Linked DNA regions of Homo sapiens. The protein of the gene in region 1 interacts with the protein of each later gene in a biochemical or structural test. Each region holds a gene or a part of one and is shown in the gene's direction. Other genes may lie near its edges.

The links. The genes of interacting proteins can lie anywhere in the genome.
Region 2: of the proteins of MIPOL1 (region 1) and SRPK2, one has a biochemical effect on the other in vitro, tested with the Homo sapiens proteins (one large-scale study listed by BioGRID).

What each region holds. Positions count from the first base shown.
Region 1 is NC_000014.9:37,199,798-37,205,036, forward strand, and holds part of MIPOL1 (mirror-image polydactyly gene 1 protein), read left to right. Parts: intron 1-5,239.
Region 2 is NC_000007.14:105,377,969-105,383,207, reverse strand, and holds part of SRPK2 (SRSF protein kinase 2), read left to right. Parts: intron 1-5,239. UniProt on the Homo sapiens protein: Serine/arginine-rich protein-specific kinase which specifically phosphorylates its substrates at serine residues located in regions rich in arginine/serine dipeptides, known as RS domains and is involved in the phosphorylation of SR splicing factors and the regulation of splicing.

The sequences.
Region 1 (5,239 bases):
TACAGGTGTGAACCATCGCGCCTGGCCATATGTACATTTTTATTGCGTATATGCCTACTAGAAAATTACTGTGTTACAGGATAGGCAGATGTGTGTTTGTGGTATACACTACTGAAAAGTTTTTCATATTGTGTCAATTTATACTTCAGTGGCAGCTTGAGAATTCTGGTTCCTCCAAATGCTTGCAACATTTCACACTGTCTTTTTCATTTTAGCCATTCTAGTAGGAATATAGTGACATAACATTGGGGTTTTCCCATAATTTCCCTAATGACTGATGGTATTGAACACATATTCATGTGTTTACTGGCATTTGGATATCCTCTATTTCTGTAAGGGACCAGACAATAAGTGTAGGCAGCCCTCGCTTTGTAGAGTTTCAGCTAACCAAGTAATGTGTGAAGCTCGGACTACCTGTATTTTAGGTTGTACAGGCTGTACAGTCTCTGTTACACATTCTTTTCTGTTTTTTTCCTCTTTACTTTGTTCCCAACCCTTTAAATATGTAAAAACAATTCTTAGCTCATGGGTTATACAAAAACAGTTGTTAAAAGATAACTTTAGGCACATGGAAATTTTAGAGTTTATATGAGCATTCAGCAATTTCATAAATTGGGTATCACCAGACCACAAGTTATTCAAGACTCCACCAAGAGGGTGTGAGGGGAAAACTTTTATAAGGTGTTTATGGAAACAGAAAATATTTGATTGGTAACAGTGGAATGTCTCTAGTTAGAAGTTGTTTGGTGGTTTCTGATTGATTAAACTCAAGTTTAGTTTTACTGTTTACATTGAGTTGGGTTTTGGTTTGTTTACATAGGAACCCAAAGTGCTGGAGCTGTCTCAACCTAATGGTTTCCCAGTTAGTTTTTTTTTTTTTTTTTTTTTTTAACACAGTCCTCTGGCTGGATTTGAGTTGTGGGCCATAGCGTACTAACCCCTGCTCTATTGAAAAATGTTTGTTCAATTTTTTGCCAATTGGTTGGATGTGAAATCAGTAACTGAGATGGGCTATATTAGAGAAATATAGATCCATAATACTATATCTATCTATGTGTGTGTGTGTGTGTGTGTGTGTGTGTGTGTGTGTGTGTGTGTGTGTATTTTTTTTTTTTTTTTTTTTGAGACAAGGTGTACCTCTGTCACCCAGGCTGGAGTGCAGTGGGGTGATCTCGGTTCACTGCAGCCTCTGCCTCCTGGGCTGAAGTGATCCTCTCACCTCGGCTTCCCAAGTAGCTAGGGTTACAGGCACACACCAACATGCCCAGGCTAATTTTAATATTTTTTTGTGGAGATGGGGTTTTGCCATGTTGCCCAGGCTGGTTTTAAACTCCTGAGCTCAAGTGATCCTCCTTCCCCAGCCTCCCTAAATGCTGGGATTACAGGCACAAGCCACCACACCTGGCCAGTATTGTAAAGCAGCATGTGTTATAGTGTTTTGGTGTTGGATTTCAGATCTCTAAACATACTTTATTTGGTTTACCAGTTTTACCTTAAGACTAATTAGAGGCCAGTTTGATTCTTGTCTGAATTGTTTTTACTTCTCCCACTTTCTTCTCACCCTGTAAATCTGAAGAACAAAAGACAGGTAAGAAGTGAGAAAAGAAAGAAGAGACAGTCTTTCTTTGATATTATTTAAAAGGCTAGGAAAGAAAAGGATGAATGTCTAGACAGTTCTGGATATTTTGAGTAAAAATATGTAAAAATATATAATATAGTTATTGTAATATTTTAAGGTGCATTTTGTCCTTTGAGCTGTTCCATCTTGGGTTTTCTGACATTTTTATCTAGTGATTGAGTACACTCATGATATAGGACGTAATAGCCATTGACTTGGGCCGTGAAGCTCAACTGTGACACCTCTTCCCAGGATGGAGGCCCTTTCTTCCTTAAATGTCTCTTTGGGCTGCCCAGTTCATCTTTTACTCTTGGCCCCCTGCCTTTTGCTCAGTATTGCCCAAAATTTTACTTTAATACCATTCAGCCCACCATCCATGTTAACATTTTTAGCTAACACTTTCTAGGTATTTGTTGTTGTTCTTGTTGTTGCTTTTAGAAACAGGATCTTGCTCTGTCACTCAGGCTGGAGTACAGTGGTGCAATCATAGCTCACTGTAACCTTGACCTGGGGTCAAGCTGTCTTCCCTGCTGCAACCTCCCAAGTAGATAGGACTGCAGGTGCTCAACATCACACCTAGCTATTTTGTTTTCTGTTTTTGTTGAGACAGAGTCTACCTTTGTTGTCCGGTCTAGTATCCAACCCCTGGCCTCAGGTCCTCCTGCCTCGACCTCCCAAAGTGCCAGGATTACAGGCATTAGCCACTGCACCAGCCCATTTCTTGTTTTTAAGTAATTTATAGAAGTGAATTTAGTGCACATTTAGATATATGCTAATACTAATGAAGGGTGTGAGGGTAATTTCATCAGTGTGATCCTTCTTTGATATGTATAATTGTTTTTTTTAGTCTTACTTGATTGTTATGCAGATAGATTTAAGAGGGGCCTCACCTTCCACTATCAATTCATTGCAGTTAAGTAAGCTTTTCTCATATAGAAATTCTGGATCCAGTACATACTGCATTTCATTACACACACACACACACACACACAAACACACACACAATGACTAATGTAAATACCTTCCTGCTTTATAAGTCCCACACAAAGCAATTGTGTTCATATGCGTGTTTTTCATGGCACTCCTTGAATCAGCTTGGAGTCACTACAAATTATTATGGGTAATAAAGGGCATGTGCCAGTAGGAGGGATTCTCAGACAAGGGAGTCCCCTCCCTCCAGGGCTTCAGACTTCATAAGGGAGCAAATAGGGAATTTATGTGGCACAAATATTTAATTTGTACGATCATCCTTAGGTGATGCTTTCATATTAGTAAGGATGTATTTGTGAGTCCAATTGTAGTCATTAGCTTCTGACCGTACCTTCTCCCCTGCATATTGCCTGCACTACATTGCCATTGTTGACTTCTGGGACAATTTTCCAGGATTTCATTACTAACAAACCTTGCCTTTTCTGGTTGCAGTTTTTAGATACTTTATTTAGGTTACATTTAATCTTGTTTACCATATTTAGGGTGACTGTGTGTTCAAGGTGAATGTATTTGTCTATTGCTTATTTGTTGCTTTTATAATTTATTTCCAGCAAATCTTATTACTAGTACGTCCAGCTACCTGGGACTGGGGATGGGCAGATGACTCACTTCCACTTGCAACTTCACGTACCATCTAGAGATGGCTTTAGGGTTGATGAGAGAAAAAGAGATAATGCACAAGATTAATCAATTGTAGCTGCTTTTGTCAGCATTGTATTATTATTCTCTCTATTGAATTTATTAGATTTTGAGACTATCATAAAGAGAAGATAGAACTGTTTTAGAGCATTAATTACAAAAACAGTTTACTATAGTGGAAAGAGCACTGGGCATAAGAGCAAAATAAGTGTGGCTCACTACCTGTTTGTTTTAACTTTTCCTGGAACTCAGCTTTCTTTTGTGAAATGAGGCCTTTTGATGAAGTATCTCTAATCTCTGGTAATCTTTTTCAAAAGACTGCCAAGAGACCGTAGGGGTCATTTAGGCTACCTTCTCAGTTTAGTCACATAGTTACTAGAACCTATTTTTGTTCTGGTTTTTATTCCAGTTGCTTTTTCCATTATACTACCTGTGATAGGGAGCCTTCTAAAATGACCTTGGTATTCACTCTTGTGTAGTTCCTTCCTCTTGAGGGTGAACTAGACCTAGAGGCTCACTTCTACTAGAATATGGCAAAAATGGTGTGATGTCACTTCTCAGATTAGATTACAAAATCTATGACTTCCCTTTTTGCTGGCACTCTGTTGCTCACTCACCTTGAGGAAGTCAGCTGTCATGTTGTGAACTGACCTGTGAAAAGGCCCACCTGTCAAGGAACTGAAGGGGACCTCCAGCCAGTAAGGAACTGAGGTTCTCAGTCTAAAAAACCTCAGGCATTTGTTTATTTATTTATTTGAGATGAAGTCTCACTCTGCCGCCCAGGCTGGAAAGCAGTGGTGCGATCTTGGCTCACTGCAACCTCCGCCTCCCGGGTTCAAGCAATTCTCCTGCCTCAGCCTCCCAAGTAGCTGGGACTGCAGGCACATGCCACCACGCCCAGCTAATTTTTTATATTTTTAGTAGCGACAGGGTTTCACCACGTTAGCCAGGATGGTCTTGATCTCCTGACCACGTGGTCCGCCCACCTTGGCCTCTCAAAGTGCTGGGATTACAGACGTGAGCCACTGCGCCCAGCCCCCTCAGGGATATTAATCCTGCCAACGACCACCGAGAGAGTTTGGAAGCAGATCCTCTCCCTGTTGAACATTGAGATGACTGCACCCCTGGCTGACACTTCGATTCCAGCCTTTTGAGAGACCCTGGGCTGGAGGACTTAGCCAAGCAACACTCAATTTCTGATTTTTAGCAACTGTGAGATTGCAAATGTGTATTGTTTTAAGCTGTTGAATTTGGGTTTAATGTGTTAAGTAGTGAGATTGCAAATGTGTATTGTTTTAAGCTGTTGAATTTGGGTTTAATGTGTTAAGTAGTGATATAGTTTGCCTGTGTCCCCACGCAAATCTCATCTTGAATTGTAGCTGCCATAATTCCTTCATGTTGTGGGAGGGATCCAGTGGGAGATAATTGAATCATGGGTGGTTTCTCTCATACCGTTCTCATGGTAGTGAATAAGTCCATGAGATGTGATGGTTTTATAAGGGGAAACCCCTTTTGCTTGGCTTTCATTCTTTTTTGCTGCCGCCATGTGAGATGTGCCTTTCACCTTTCACGATGATTGTGAGGCCTCCCAAGCCACGTGGAACTGCGAGCCCATTAAACCTCTTTCTTTTGTAAATTGCCTGGTCTCAAGTATGTCTTTATTAGCAGCGTGAAAACGGACTAACACAGTAAACAGACTAACACAGTAAATGGACTAATACAGTAGAGTGGGGTGCTGCTGAAAAGATACCTGAAAATGTGGAAGTGACTTTGAAACTGGGTAACAAGCAGAGGCTGGAATAGTTTGGAGGGCTCAGAAGAAGACAGGAAAATGTGGGAAAGTTTGGAACTTCCTGGAGACTTATTGAATGGCTTTGCCCAAAATGCTGATAGTGATATGGACAATAAAATCTAGGCTGAGGTGGTCTCAGATAGAAATGAGGAACTTGTTGAGAACTGTAGCAAAAGCAAAGAGACTGGCGGCATTTTGCT
Region 2 (5,239 bases), on another chromosome or scaffold:
CTATAGTCCCAGCTAGTTGGGAGGCTGAGGCGGGAGAATGGCGTGAACCCAGGAGGCGGAGCTTGCAGTGAACCGAGATTGTGCCACTGCACTCCAGCCTGGGCGATAGAGCGAGACTCTGTCTCCAAAAAAAAAAAAAAAAAAAAAAAAAAAATTTTTACTTTTGAAATAATTTCAGACTCACAAGACCTTGCAAAAGTGGTACAGAGTTCTTTGTGTACTCTTTATTCAACTTCCCTGACGTTGATATCTTAACCATAGAACATTGTTGAAACCAATAAATTGACATTGAGACAATGTTATTAATTCAAGAAAGATTTTACTTGGATTTTATCAGTTTTACATGCACTCTCTGTGTAGTTCTAACAAATTGTGTCACTTGTGTAGATTAGAATAATCACCACAGTCAGGATGCCAAACTGTTTCATTACCACAAAGAACAGTCACTCTCTCTTCAAATCTAAGCTTGGGAAACACTGATCTGTTCTCTATCACTTAATGTTGCCACTTTGAGAATGTTATATAAATGGAATTATACAGTATGTCACCTTTTGTGATTCGCCTTTTTTCATGCAGCGTAATGCCCTTGAGATTCATCCATGTTGTTGCCTGTGTGAGCAGAGCATTCCTTTTTTTTTTTTTTTTTTTTTTTTTTGAGATGGAGTTTTGCTCTTGTTGCCCAGGCTGGAGTGCAGTGGCACGATCTTGGCTCACCGTAACCTCCGCTTCCTGGGTTTAAGCGATTCTCCTGACTTAGCCTCCTGAGTAGCTGGGATTACAGGCATGTGCCACCATGCCAGGCTAATTTTGTATTTTAAGTAGAGACGGGGTTTCTCCACTTTGGTCAGGCTGGTCTCGAGCTCCTGACCTCAGGTGATCCACCCGCCTTGGCATCCCAAAGTGCTGGGATTATAGGCATGAGCCACCGTGCCTGGCTGTGCTTTCCTTTTTATTGGTAACAAGTATTCCATTGTGTGGATTAACAGTTTATTCACAGGCTAAAGGATATCTGGGTATACTTTGCTTCTACTTTTTTTTTTGAGATGGCATCTTGCTCTGTCGCCCAGGCTGGAGTGCACTGGCGCAATCATGGCTCACTGCACCTGCCACCTCCCAGGTTCAAGCGATTCTCCTGGCTCAGCCTCCCAAGTAGCTGGGACTACAGGCATGTGCCACCACGCCTGGCTAATTTTTGTATTTTTAGTAGAGATGGGGTTTCACCATCTTGGTCAGGCTGGTTACGAACTCCTGGCCTCAAATGATCTGCCTGCCTTAGCCTCCCAAAGTGTTGGGATTACAGGCGTGAGCCACCGTGCCCAGCTTGGTGAGACAGTTTTGGAATGTAATGATACAAGTTTATATCCTTATTCAGTAAGCCTCAACCCTTGAATTTATACTTCCCTGTAGTATAAATTCAAGCTCATAAGCCCATGACTTTGGAATACTTCTCATGGATTACCTAATTTTCATTTCTTATTTTTTTACACATTTGTTTATTCAACAAACATTTTTGCTTACTACCTCTACAGTAGAATACAGTAAATGGACACGAAGCAAATACCTAGTGCTGCAGATAGCTAGTGCCAGGGTGTGTGTTGGATGCTAGAAGAGTAAGATAATTAAAGTAGAAGAGATTGCTTTGTGAAAAGACCATTGCAGGACAGTGTGATGAGAACTGTAAGATTTAGGTACAGTAGTGCTTAGTTTTTTTGTTTTTGTTTTGTTTTGTTTTGTTTTTTCGAGATGGAGTCTTGCTCTGTTGCCCAGGCTGGACTGCAGTGGCCTGGTCTTGGCTCACTGAGACAGGGTTTCGCCATATTGGCCAGGCTGGTCTCAAGCTCCTGACGTCATGATCTACCTGCCTTGGCCTCACAAAGCGTTGGGATTACAGGCTTGAGCCACTGCGCCTGGCCAGATTTCATTTTAATATTGTCATTTTAATGAAATAACTTTTTTTTTTTTTCTTGAGGCAGTCTTGCTCTGTCACCCAGACAGGAATGCAGTGGCATGATCTTGGCTCAGTGTAACCTCTGCCTCCTGGGTTCAGGCGCTCCTCATGCCTCAGCCTCCCAAGTAGCTGGGATTACAGGCATGCGCCACCATGCCCAGCTTATTTTCTTTGTATTTTTAGTAGAGCCTGGTCAGGAACTCCTGGCCTAAGCCTCAAGTGATCTGCCTGCCTCAGCCTTCCAAAATGCTGGGATTACAGTCATGAGCTACTGCCCCTGGCCCAGCTTTTTTTTTTTTTTTTTTTTTTTTTAAAGTAATAAAAGTAATATGGTCATGGTAAAAAATTCAGTACAGAATTCAGTATAATACAGAAGATTTAAGAAGCAAGTGTCAGCTGTGGCTCCACTAATTATTTTTAATTTAAAAATTTTTTAGCAGCTGGGCGTGGTAGCTTACGCCTGTAATCCCAGCGCTTTGGGAGGCCGAGGTGGGCAGATCACAAGGTCAGGAGATCAAGACCATCCTGACCAACATGGCGAAACCCCGTCTCTTCTAAAAATACAAAAATTAGCCAGGCGTGGTGGCATGTGCCTATAATCCCAGCTATGCAGGAGGGTGAGGCGGGAGAATTGCTTGAACCCGGGAGGCAGAGCTTGCAGTGAGCTGAGATGGCGCCACTGCACTCCAGCCTGGGCGACAGAGCGAGACTCCATCTCAAAAAAAAAAAAAAAAAAAATTTTAGCATGTTAATTTAGGGTATCTAATTGTTTTGGTGTGTTATTCTTTTACTTGTGCATGGTTTTGTTCATTTTTCAAAAATTGAGTCCTAGCATACATGTATATGCATGTATGTAAAGTGCATTGATCTTTTAAAGATCAGTGAGGATCACTAGAGGTCAGGAGTTTGAGACCAGCCTGGCCAACATGATGAAACCCCGTCTCTACTAAAAATACAGAAATTAGCTGGGAGTGGTGGCACATGCCTGTAGTCCCAGCTATTCCAGAGTCCGAGGTGGGAGAATTGCTTGAACACGGGAGATAGAGGTTGCTTTGAGCTGAGATTGCACCACTTAGTGCCAGCCTGGGCGACGCAGTGAAACTCCCTCTTAAGGATAAAACATCATTTTTAATTTTAATTTTCTTTTTTAGAGATAGGATCTTGCTTTGTTGCCTAGGCCGCTTTCACCCTCTTGGGTTTGGGTGATACCCCACCTAAGCCTCCCAAGTAGCTGGGACTGCAGGTGCCTACCACCATGCCTGGCAGTGCACTCATATTTTTTTGAGACGGAGTCTTGCTCTTTCGCTAGGCTGGTGTGCAGTGGCGCTATCTCAGCTCACTGCAACCTCCGCTTCCCCGATTCAAGCCATTCTCCTGCCTCAGCCTCCTGAGTAGCTGGGAGTACAGGCTCGTGCCACCACTCCCCAGCTAATTTTTGTATTTTTAGTAGAGACGAGGTTTCACCATGTTGGCCGGGCTGGTCTCGATCTCCTGACCTTGTGATCTGCCCGCCTCGGCTTCCCAAAGTGCTGGGATTACAGGCGTGAGCCACCACGCCTGGCCCAGTGCATTCGTCTTAATTGTACAGTTTGATGATTTTTTTTACATTTATTTATACCCCTGTAACGACCATGTAGATCAGTATATAAAACCCCTTCAATGCTCCATAAGTTTTCTCATGCCTCTCCCGAGTCTATACTCTACCACCTAGGAGCAACAACTTTTTTGATATCTATCATTATTGATTAGTTTTGTCTGTTCTTGAATTTCATATAAATGAAATCATATAGAATATACAGTCATCCCTCAGTACGCTTGGAGGATTGGTTCTGGGACACCCTCAAATAACAAAGTCTGAGGATACTCAAGTCCCTTGTAACCTTCACACATCCTCCTGTATATTTTAAATTATCTCTGGATTACTAATAATATATATACAATGTAAATACCATGTCAATGGTTGTTACATGGTGTTTTTTTAATTTGTAGTTTTTATTTTGTTATTATTTATTTACTTTTGATTGTTTTTGATTCATGATTGGTTGAACCTATGGATGCAGAGTCCACAGTTTCAGAGGGCTGACTTTATATATATATATATATTTTTTTTTAGAGACTGGGTCTTGCTTTGTTGGCTGACAGTGGCACAATCATAGCTCACTGCCACCTCAAATTCCTGGCCTCAAATGATCCTCCTGCCTCAGGCTGCTGAGTAGCTGGGACTACATGTGAGCACCACCATGCCCAGCTGATTTTAAAATTTTTTGTAGAGATGGGATCTCCCTATGTTGCCCAGGCTCAAAGATGTAGTTTTGATTGAACTACTTTACTCTCCCACAAGTGTAAAGACACTTAAGTTTGCTTCACATTTTTGCCCACACTTGGCAGTGTCATTGTAATAAATTTTACCTATTATGGGTGTGTATTGATATTTCATTATGGTTTTCAATTGCATTTTCCTGAGTAATGATGTTAAACATCATTTTTTTTTTTTTTTTGAGACGGAGTCTTTCTCTGTTGCCAGACTGGATTGCAGTGGCATGATCTCGGCTCACTGCAACCTCCACCACCTGAGTACAAGCAATTCTCCTGCCTCAGCCTCCTGAGTAGCTGGGACTACAGGTGTGTGCCACCGTGCCCAGCTAATTTTTGTATTTTTGGTAGAGATGGGGTTTCACCATGTTGGCCAGGATGGTCTTGATCTCTTGACTTCGTGATCTGCCCACCTCGGCCTCCCAAAGTGCTGGGATTACAGGCGTGAGCCACCAGGCCCAGCCAACATCTTTTCATATGTTTCTTGGTCATTTGAGTTTCCTGTTTTGTGAAGCGCCTTTTTAAGTCTTTTGCCCCCTACCCTTTAAAAAAAATATTGTGTCGTAAGTTTTTCTTACTGATTTATAAAAATTTGTAGATTTTCAGATGACTTCTTTTTCGGATGTATGTATAAGTTATGTATCTTTCTAATCATTATGGATATCATTTTGTAATCTAAAAGCAAACTGGAAATCAGGAGGGCATTCTAAACTGGTTCTGGAAGAACCAGTAATTCTCCAAGTAAAATAAGGGGGCAGGGCAAGGACCTTCCATGCCGAAGAAACACTGCAGTTGGTGTCAACATGTGGGGTTTAAAATGGCGTGTAGTCTTGGAATGTCAAGCAGGTTAGTAGGGCTGGAGTGCAGGGTGTGGTAAGCAATAAATAGGGCTCTGAGGAAGTCAAACGAAGGACTGGGGAGCTGTTAAGGGGTACACACTCAGGTTTTTAGAAAGATTCCTTTAGCTATTGTGTGGGG